Homo sapiens: one gene and its partners. The protein of the gene in region 3 purifies or fractionates together with the protein of the main gene of each other region. This does not show direct contact. Each region holds a gene or a part of one and is shown on either strand. Other genes may lie near its edges. The genes, in order: MIA3, ANAPC4 and ANO6.

Region 1 (3,654 bases), on a different chromosome or scaffold from region 3:
ACATGAATAATACTGAAAAATGGTTTGGTTTTCCTACTTGTTTTCCATCCTGGTGGTCTTTCTCCTGAAACCCTCAGGTATTCAATGTCTTTATATGCCCTCTGACCATCCAAATGAGAATTAGGTGAGGGATGAGATCTTACAAAATGCCAGTTGCTACACCAGACATTTTACATTATCATGTCATTTAATTCTTACCAACAATTGGAGTATGTATTATCTAAATTTTTCAGATGAGAAAGTTGAGGTTCAAAGTTTAGTAATTTGCCCTAAACTTCTAATCGATAGCTTTGGGATTTGAAATAAAATCATCTTGGCTTGAAACCCATGGATTTTAACAGAAAAACAACAAGAACGCTCTTTCCTATTCGAGTCTTGAAATAACAGAACCTAAAGGAAATGGCTTTGGTGAGAAGCATACTTTCTCTGTAGCCCTAAGGGCAACCTGGCCTCCAACTTCAAGAGCTTGCTTAGTCCTCTAATTTACCAAGAAAAAAAGTCCAATTCCACCGAGTACCACAAGGGGGAGCTAAGTCCTAAAAAGCCTAGATAAGCTTCTAGACATTAAATGTCTCATTTGGAGCATGGCTCCCTTTAGAAAGATCTGAATAAATATTCTGCCATAAGTGACTCTTTCTAAGAAACAGACCTGACAATCCCTTTCCTGCTTAAAATCTTCCAAGGATCTCTGCCAACAATGGTCTGACCACTCACTATGGTGTACAATTTCCTTTCTGACTTTCCCTGAGTCCCTCCAACAGACCTTCTCCCTCCTAACTCCATACTTTTTTATTTTTATTTTTTCTGAGGCAGGGTCTTGCTCTGTCGCTCAGGCTGGAATGCAGTGGCACGATCTCAGCTAATTGCAACCTCTGCCTCCCGGGCTCAAGCTATTCTCCTGCCTCAGCCTCCCAAGTAGATGGGATTACAGGTGTGCACCACCCTGCCCAGCTAATTTTAACTCCACACTTTAACAACACCAACTGGCCGGGAATGGTGGCTCACGCCTGTAATCCCAGCACTTTGGGAGGCCAAGGTGGGCAGCTCCCATGGGCTCAGGAGTTCGAGACCAACCTGGGCAACATCACAAAACCCCACCTCTACAAAAAATAGCCAGGCATGGTGGTGCACACTTGTGATCCCAGCTACTCAGGAGACTGAAGCAGGAGGATCGCCTGAGCCCAGGAGGCAGAGGTTGCAGTGAGCTGAGATCACGCCAATGCACTCCTGCCTGGGCAACAGAGCAAGACCCTGTCTCAATTTAAAAAAAAAAGAAAAAGAAAAAACACCAACTACCCACGCTTCCCTGGCTTCCCCAAATAACCTTTTCTTCATGCCTCCATTTCTCTGAATGTGTTATTTCTTCTGCCTGACTGCATGCTGCCCGCCCCCCTGCCCACATCCTTCCCCTAGCCCTTCTATTTGACAACTCCAAGTCAAGCTCCCATCTCTTTCGAATCTGCTTAAAGCATATCTCAGCGAATTTCTGGCCTTTCCTATCACTCTCCCTCCACGATGAACCAATTTATGCCACAGATTGTTCTACCATCAGGTAAATACTTCTCTTCCTGCCCATTATCATGTTACATTTCAAGTGACTGTCTTTCTCTCCTGGCTAAACTGAAAGGTCCCTGAAAGGAAGAACCACGTTTGACAGGTGTGCTTGTGCCCAGCTCCAGCATGCAGCAAAGCCTCCTCATGTGCTGAACTAAGAGCCCATTAAAGCCACACACCTGTGGCTCATTTCAGGGTCTCTCTTCAAAGGATCAGGAGTCAGGTTCATAAAGACATTTTAAGTTCTTCACCTCATGCTCAAAATCAACTTAAAAACTGTAATAATCAACATTTTAGTTAAAAAAAAACTATGTTAAACTTACCGACTTAGTTAAATAAAACATGAATGAATATATTAGAAGGATTGCGTTTTCCAAAGGTGTGACACTTGCCGGCTCTTCGGCGGCTGTCTCTGGTTGCTTGTTTGCATCAATAGCATCCATAGGAGTGTCTTCTGTTGTAACTGGCCCTGGAATTGGGAGGAAAGATAGACATTTTGTGCTTTAGAATAAGAATTCTCTTTAAAAAATACTTATTGAGTATCCACTAAATATTAGGCACTGTGCCTGGAAAGTAAACGTTCTCATCTCTCACTGGATGTTTACTGTGCACTGTGGTGAAATACTCTTTGTGTCGGTCTATCCTGGACTATTACACACTACAGTGTTCTGTACTGTCTCCTATGAGCTTATGCTATAAACATACTTGGACCCCTTCACTGTATTTTAAGAAGTTTTACTTACCATGTCCAGATAGCAAATCAAAAAAAAGAACTGCATTGCATTGTATTTTATTTGGAAAGAGAGGGGTAAAGTAGAGGAAAAACAGAATTTGTGAGTTTTAGAGCAGTGGTTCTCCAACTGTAATTTGCATCAGGTCAGTCTTTCCTGGAGGGCTTGTTAAACACAGATTGCCGGTTCCACCCCCAGAGTTTCTGATGCTGCTGGGCTGGTTGAAAACTACTGTTTTAGAGCATAAGGCCTTTTAAGAATAATATTTTAGATTGAAATAATTTACACAAGATAGTGACAGCCAAACATTGGTTTGTAGGTTAGTTATAGTCTCTGGTGTCTTTCCTATTTTTGATCTCCATCTGTCTTGACGCCTGCTTTTCTCTCAATTAGCTCTGGGATCCTTTTTTCCTTTGAATTTAACAAGTCTCTAGCTCCTGCCTTTGACAATGAATCTCCTAGAAGGCCTTCTTTATGATTTCTCCACTTTGTAGAAAAAAATTAGCAGGCTTTACCTGGGTCCAGGTCTTTCTCAGTATTTGGCTTCTGTGACACTTCTGAGGCATGAGTGTCCCCAATCACACGTTGGTCCAAGTGGGTGGGTTCTTCAGGAACCTGCACATTAAGTTCTGCTGTCTTCTCTCGTGAGAAATTATCTTCATGCAGTGGTTGCATCTCTAGGGTGAGAAGAATACACTGGGCTAGCACAGCTTGATGACACTACCTGTTAGGCTAATCCCACTGACCACACCAGGGCACCTCAACATTGACCTCCATGCATGGGCATCCCATGGAGCACAACTGGGCAGGGAAATAAGAGTTTCAGTTTCTTTTATTCCATTTAAAGGATGACTAATCTACATAATAAAATCTACAGAGGAGTATTTCATAAATAAATACATTTATGGTAGGGACTTCAGTAACATCTTTCCTTGGCAAATCAGCCTACACCCACACAAATAAATGTGCAAATGAGAATTCCACTCAAGAGCAGAAATGTGAAACATCTATTCTGCAGAGAAGTAACATGAACTCTTGCATACCCTAGCATGCCTTTCTCACAGAACTAGTACAGACAGGGACATTCCACGCCAAGGCAGCTTGCTGAGATGTCTTTCGAATACTTTCAAAGTACCTCTAAGAGTCAAACAAAGTGAAGCCATCTCCTCTCCTAAGAGGCTTAGGGGACAGTCCAATGTGATCCACAGCAAAGGTGAATTTCCTTGTAGCCTCATATTTTACCCTGAAAATTCATCTGAATATTGCCTTCTTATCCAAAATATATGTTTTAATTAAATGCAAAAAAGTTCTCCTCCCCCATTTCTTAGGAAAAATTAGCACTCTGGAGTAATACGTTTTCCTGTGGCTT
Region 2 (3,754 bases), on a different chromosome or scaffold from region 3:
TTGAAGAAAATGTTGAGACCACGATGTAACCAAAAAGAAATAATTGGGTTATTTCTATTCCAAATGTCTTTGGTGACTGTGTGATTTTAAACCAAATTGGTTTATCTATCTAGGCATTTAAACAAGTTCTCAGTGTTCTAAAGAAGTACATGTACTGACCCTGACAATCATGTTCTTTTAAGCCTTTAGATTATTGACTATCCAGGTTGTTCCACAGAGTCTCTTTTTTTCCCCCTTCTTTCTTGAAGATCTGTGAGTAATGGACTAATTGCTATTAAATTTGGGAGCTTTACATATGCCACAACAGAAAAAGTCAGAAGAAGGTAAGTCTTGAATCTTGTTTGGATGAAATGTAGATACATGTGATATGTGTATATGTTTAGGAATAGGATCAGACTCAGTTACGGTGGTAATATAGGTAAAAGGGCTTTGCCACTTCCCACATCAAGGGCAGGATTCTTTGTGTATTTATACATAGAGAATGATTTGACTTGTGATTGAATAGAACCTTACTGCCCTGCAGTTTATGTCGTACGGTTTCCTATAATTAATACTCCTGAGCTCCCTGTTGACAAAGAAAGTAATGTGGTTCCCATGGGCAGATGGCCTGCAGGGCTGAAGTTCTTGTTACGACCAAAAAAAATTATGAGGTGATGCCATTCTTAGTGATGGGAGATTTTCTTAGGATTCAAAATGGTAACAGTACCTAAGCCATCCCTGAGGCTTCGCAAGGGAAAGAAGTGACTAATCATAGGCTGATCTTTTTCTCACTTTTTTCCTCACATAAAATAAGTTTTTTTATGATAAAGTCCTTGGAGTTGCTGTGCCTATTTTTCATGTGTAGTATCTTATTTTTATTTCTCAGTCTAGTCAACTCTGCTGAATGTGTATATAAGGTGTCATTCATAGAATTTCCACAGGCTTAAGGCCTAACCATTGATGGCCAGGGGCTTTCTAGAACTGAAACAACTTCACAGATTTTTGGGGGTCATGATTACCCATTTTTAAGATTTGGTTATATATGTGAATAATCAGTACAAAAAGTAACTGATTTTAATACAAACCAATGATATATTTTAAATGTTATTGTACAGAATGTCACTTAACTTTTAAATTTTTTTCTGCTTGCTGCCAGTATAACATGCATACAATATTTTCTCAGTAGTCACGATCATCTTTGATATAACAAAACTTATTTTAATTCTAGCATCTACAGTTGTTTAGATGCACAGTTTTATGATGATGAAACTGTAACAGTAGTTCTTAAAGACACTGTAGGACGTGAAGGAAGAGATAGACTCTTGGTCCAGCTGCCTTTGTCTTTAGTATATAACAGTGAAGATTCTGCAGAATATCAGTTCACTGGGACTTATTCTACAAGGTAACTAGTAACATTGTCTTTCTGATATTACAGTTAAATGTTTTTTTAATGCACATTATAAATTCCAACCTTTTAGGTACGCTAGATAATGGTTATTTCGTTACTAGAGATAACCACAGAGGTAGCTGAGCAGAAATGCTCCAATTTTTCATTCAAAATATGCTGGCCTTAATAGCTTTTTTTGTCCCTTTGCTTTACTAGTAAATCAGGAAGTATTTGCTGGAATCAAGGTGGGGAATTATTTGGAGTGGATAATGGGACTTCTTTTAGTTACATTTTTAAGGATAGCATTAACCCTAGTTGGTTGGAATTAGTTATTTTTGATTTGCCTTCAGTATTTTCCTTCCAGAATTAAGACCTCAGTACCCATGTAGGAAGTATACTGTCAATTCCAAGAGATGGCTTTAATTGACTGAGACTTAAGTAAGCAGATCTCTAATTTAAAAATGTATCCATTTGCTTTCTTTGAAAGGGAGTCAGAAACCTTGCTAAGATGATATTCTGCCTGTTTGGAATTACAGTATTTCTTTTCTTTTTTTTTTTTGAAACAGGGCCTCTCTTTGTCACCCAGGTTGGAGTGCAGTGACGCAATCATAGCTCACTGCAGCCTCCAACTCATGGGCTCAAGTGACCCTCCTGCCTCAGCCTCTCATAGCTGGGACTACAGGCATGTGCCACCTTGCCTGACTAATTTTATTTTTTTACAGAGATAGAGTCTTACTATGTTGCCCAGGCTGGCCTTGAACTCCTGGACTCAAGCAATCCTCCCACCTTGGCCTCGCAAAGTGCTGAGATTCCAGGCATGAGCCACTGTGCCTAGCCAGAATATAGAATATGGAATTTTTATAGAATATTATATCACAGCTTTTTTTCTAACACAACAGTTGCTAAAATTATATTGGAAATAGAAGTATGAGTAGAAGTCAAAACCATAATTGACCCTAATACCACCTGTAGTAAAACTAGGGAGGATAAGATCCCCTTTTCATTCCTGAGTTGGTTTTTTTCCCTCTTTAGGCTAGATGAACAGTGTAGTGCTATTCCCACCCGTACCATGCATTTTGAGAAGCACTGGAGATTACTGGAAAGTATGAAAGCACAGTATGTTGCTGGGAATGGTTTTCGAAAAGTGTCCTGTGTGGTAAGTGTTTAGAGATCGTTCAGCAACTAAGAAATTACAAGAAGTAACGTTGCTTCTTTGGAACCTTCATCAAATACATGATATATAAGGTCCTTTTGTGCAAATATTTTTACTGTGATTTATAGCTTGTATTGATTATGATCATGTGGTGGCCTTAGCTATTTAGTTCTTGTTCTGATAAAGCTTACTAAGTAGTTAATAATAATACTAGATTTTAATCTCACGAAATTGCCACTGTTGTTATGTGGAGATCTTTTTATACAAAATGAAGGCTGAATTTATTGATTTTGTTGTAAATTGATGGGAATATAACTTTCCTATAAAACCATTCTTTGATTCAGACTTCTGATTTCTAATTCTTTATATATGATAAGCCATTAATTTAAAAATGCTTTTATGGCCTTTTCTTTTTTAGTTAAGCTCAAATCTTCGTCATGTGAGAGTATTTGAAATGGACATAGATGATGAATGGGAGCTCGATGAGTCTTCAGATGAAGAGGAGGAGGCCAGTAATAAGCCTGTAAAAATAAAGGAAGAAGTGTTGTCGGAGTCAGAGGCAGAGAACCAACAAGCTGGTGCTGCCGCTTTAGCTCCAGAGATAGTCATTAAAGTGGAAAAACTTGACCCTGAGCTAGACTCCTAATCTAGCTTGCCATTATTGTGTGTGTAATTATGGCCAAAAGGACATAGGAGATGGACTAAGATGTCTTGGACCACCTTTGTGTAACAAAGAAATAAACAGTAAATTTTATTTTTTCATATTCTGCTTCATCTTCTCTTAGTGATATAGTCACTATGATAGACTTTATTTTTTCTGAGCTTTCTCTTTAATGCTATGTGCAGAACTAGTGTTTAAAGAAAACAGGGCCAGGCATGGTGGCTCATGCTGGTAATCTCAGCACTTTGGGAGTCTGAGGTGGGTGGCTCACCTGAAGTCAGGAGTTCAAGACCAGCCTGGCCAACATGGCAAAACCCCGTCTCTACTAAAAATACAAAAATGAGCTGGGCGTGGTGCATGCCCCTATAATTCCAGCCACTTGGGAGGCTGAGGCATGAGAATCGCTTAAACCTGGGAGCCAGAGGTTTCAGTGGGCTGAGATTGCGCCATTGCACTCCATCCAGCCTGCGTGATGGAGTGAGACTCTGTCTCAAAAAAGAAAGAGAGAAGGTGAACAAATTGAATATGAAGAAAAAGTCTAATCTTTTCTGTCAGAAGGGTAGGTATCAGGAAT
Region 3 (3,654 bases):
CCTTCAACTTGTCTTCTATGCAAGTGTTCCATCTGATGTGTTTTGGCTGAACAGTATTTGAATTGCTCTTTGGTCCATGTCCAAAATATTCTATTGTTGACATACTCATCTACCAGTATTCTTCAAACTGCTTTTTGGGATGGATGCTAATTAATTTTAGTTGCAATGACCAAAATACAAAACTAAAGAAAAAAAAATAATGTCATAAGACAATCATTTGGCTGAATAAAATTCCTTCAATCTGTATCTTTACATATGATTTACCAATCAGTTGAGTAGTACATTTCGTTGGCTAAAGGTAATTGGAAATATTTTCTGTTCTAAAATTGACTACTCTTGCACAGACCCAGCCCTGAATTCATTATAATCAGACAGCTTAAATCATATGGCATGCAAAGCTTCCATTAAAATCTAAAAATGTCTCACGCCTGTAATCCCAGCACTTTGGAAGGCCGAGGCGGGAGGATAACGAAGTCAGGAGATCAAGACCAACCTGGTTAACAGGGTGAAACCCCGTCTCTACTAAAAATACAAAAAAATTAGCCGGGCGTGGTGGTGGGTGCCTGTAGTCCCAGCTACTCGGGAGGCTGATGCAGGAGAATGGCGTGAACCTGGGAGGTGGAGCTTGCAGTGAGCCCAGATCTTGCCACTGCACTCCAGCCTAGGAAAAAGAGTAAGACTCCATCTCAAAAAAAAAAAATCTAAAAATGTCCCAAAACATATGTTTTGTTGAACATCTACTATGTGAAAAACATTACGATATTCAGGCTGTGAGATACAAAGATGAATAAGAAATCTTCTCCCCGCTTCAAGACGAGTGTTTTTGGTTAAGATGTACAGCTAAAATACAAAATACACACCAAGTAAAGTGTAACAGAAGAAAACCTAAAGGATTAGAGTGAAAACTTATTAAAATACAATCATTTTAATCATCTGCTACAGATATCACTAAGAGATCAATATCATCCTTTAATTTAAAGCCAAATCGTGAGTTTTTTTTTTTTTTTTTTTGAGACAGGGTCTCTGTTGCCCAGGCTGGACTGCAGTGGCACAATGACAGCTCACTGCAGCCTTGGCTTCCTGGGTTCAATTGAATCTTCCACCTCAGCCTCCAAAGCAGCTGGCACCACAGGCATGTGCCATGCCCAACTGATTTTTGCAGTTTTTGTATAGATTGGGTCTTAGTATGTTTCCCAGGCTGGTTTCAAACTCTTTCGCTCAAGCAATATTCCCACCTTGGCCTCCCAAAGTGCTGAGATAATAGGCATGACCCATCATGTCCGGCCCTTTATTTCCGGTATTCTTAATCCTTTATAATCTCCCTTCAAGAATATCAGAATTAAAATCCCATATAACTGATGGAAATTTTCATAGGAGCATTTGGTCTAAATTTCTAGGCTCCCAAAAGAAAAAATAATAAATGTAGAGCAATCGACATATGTGACTGCTGCAACCCCTTGAGAAAAGACGAGTGTGTATACAGCTAAAATACAAATTAAGTAAGAGTAACTCTTATTCTTTTAGAGCTGTGTTTGTCTCAGAACCAAATAAAGTATTTTAAGAGGATACTGGAGGACCTTTTGGAAAGCTATTATTTGACTTGAAAGAATGTGCAAGATAAATCATGTCTGTGGACTTGAAACTGAAAATAACAAAAGGTTTATAAAAAGAAGCAAGACTATTCTAAAAGAGAGTTTGAGGATAGTTTGCTTTGTTTTTAGCTGTCATCTCCTTGGTAGAGAGTGTGCATACAGACACACACACACATATGTATATATAATGTATACATATTTATACATGTGTATATATTTATGATATGTACACAACATGATCCCCTTGCCATCGTGAATAAGGCCAGGGTGTATCAAGATTTAATTTTTGAGAAATCATCATGCCTTTAGAAACACTCAGGACGCTCTGCTGTCCTAGCCCCATGCCCTCACCTGTCTTTTCATCCCAACAGGGCTGGCTCAGGTGCTGCCCCAATAGAGCTGTCCTGGATTCCCCTAGGCAAGGTCACGTGCTTTCTCCTTGGTATCACCACTGAACCTGGTACAGATCTTGATTACAGTATTAATCACAAGTTACTGAAATTATCCGTTTCCTTTCTAGACAGTGAGGTACTAGAGAACAGTGAACCTGGAACCTAGCAGAGTGCCTGGTAAAATACATACACTCAGCATTTTTAGAACAGATAACTGGGGGTATCTCAAAGTGCCACAGAAGAAGAAAATTCTACTAGGGCCATAAAACCACTAGGCATTATGTTAATCAAGTTATCTTAGAAGAATAAATCATCCATTCCTTCCACAATTACTTGCTTGGCTCCTACCAAGGTGCCATGAGGGACACAGCTTAAAACACAAAACACACAAGGTACCAGTCTTCAGGGAGCTTACATTTTAGAGGAGAATGAGGAAAAGAGACAACTCTTAAAAATTATAGCAATGGAATATGTACAATATTTAAGATATTTTGCATGATCTCTAGAAGACTTAAATAACCTAGGCCAGTCACCAAGAAATGTACACTATGGTTATGGGAATGATAAACGCAAAGATAATGAATAACAAAGACAAAATACAGGATGAATGCTAACTGCATAGAACAAAAAAATAAGTGAGAATTCATTGTGAGCACTTTGGGCTAAGAGGATCATTAACAACTTTCTGGGTTTGTGACAGACTTGGGAGGGGAGGGAGGCTGTGAGCAGAAAAACACTAAGTGTTTTTTCTATTCTCTTATTCAACAATCAACACAGAAGACTTCAGTGACCAAATGTGCAAGGATTTCTCCCCAGCAACAAGCAAGCAATCAATTCTGCAGTGGATACCAGCTGGGTATCCTCCAAGTGAATTCTGACACTATTTACCTGGAGATGGTGTCAGATCCCACAGTTAAGGGTTCAGTCCCACAAAATTGCCCCCCACTACTTCTGATGCCAATCACAAGCCCCGGGTCATTTTACCTATGCTTCTGATGAACTGTTTATAAATTGGGGTTCCCACGACACCCTCCTTGGGTTCCATTAATTTGCTGTAGTGGCTTGGGGAACTCAGGGAAACACTTCCCGTTTACCAGTTTATTATAAAAGATAAAGATGAAGAGATGCATAGAGTGAGGTATGCGGGAAAAGGCACTGAGTTTTCACGCCCTCCCAGGGCAAGCTACCTTCAGGTACCTCCACTGTTCAGCTATCCAGAAACTCCCTGAACCAGTCCTCTTGGACCTTTATGGAGACTTCATTGGATAGTCATGATTGAACCATGTTGAAAAGTGATTGGACAAAAAGCATACGATTTAATACTAATAGACTGAATGGGGAAACCCAGCAAGGCCTGTCTGATCAGATTTTTCTGGCATCTCTGTGCAGCATTCCTTCCTCCAGGGTATGGGGCAGGATCCCTTCTGAAATGGGGGTCTTATGGCCTACATTCAGACAAGGTAGATGGGAGAATTTCTTTATGGGCAGTTCTCACACAGAAAGATGGGGAAAGATTATAGTTTTAGTTTCTAAAATTGGAGAGACAAAGGTAAAAATAGGGCAGGTCAAAGATGGAGATTGTTTTCTGAGGCCTGCTTCTGCTTCTGAGGCCTAAAGCACCCCAACATTATAGCAAGAGTTATGGTAGTTATAAGCCAGGAACCATGGAC

The links.
Region 1: the proteins of ANO6 (region 3) and MIA3 purify together in Homo sapiens (affinity purification with mass spectrometry; 2 studies listed by BioGRID and IntAct, with this or other methods). This does not show direct contact.
Region 2: the proteins of ANO6 (region 3) and ANAPC4 purify together in Homo sapiens (affinity purification with mass spectrometry; 2 studies listed by BioGRID and IntAct, with this or other methods). This does not show direct contact.

The regions. Positions count from the first base shown.
Region 1 is NC_000001.11:222,631,473-222,635,126, reverse strand, and holds part of MIA3 (transport and Golgi organization protein 1 homolog isoform 1 precursor), read right to left. Parts: intron 2,963-3,654; coding exon 2,801-2,962; intron 2,024-2,800; coding exon 1,878-2,023; intron 1-1,877.
Region 2 is NC_000004.12:25,415,218-25,418,971, forward strand, and holds the end of ANAPC4 (anaphase-promoting complex subunit 4), read left to right. Parts: intron 1-182; coding exon of another isoform or gene 183-189; exon of another isoform or gene 190-248; coding exon 249-323; intron 324-1,207; coding exon 1,208-1,381; intron 1,382-2,398; coding exon 2,399-2,522; intron 2,523-2,937; coding exon 2,938-3,165; 3' UTR 3,166-3,281; downstream 3,282-3,754. UniProt on the Homo sapiens protein: Component of the anaphase promoting complex/cyclosome (APC/C), a cell cycle-regulated E3 ubiquitin ligase that controls progression through mitosis and the G1 phase of the cell cycle.
Region 3 is NC_000012.12:45,222,541-45,226,194, reverse strand, and holds part of ANO6 (anoctamin-6), read right to left. Parts: intron 1-3,654. UniProt on the Homo sapiens protein: Small-conductance calcium-activated nonselective cation (SCAN) channel which acts as a regulator of phospholipid scrambling in platelets and osteoblasts.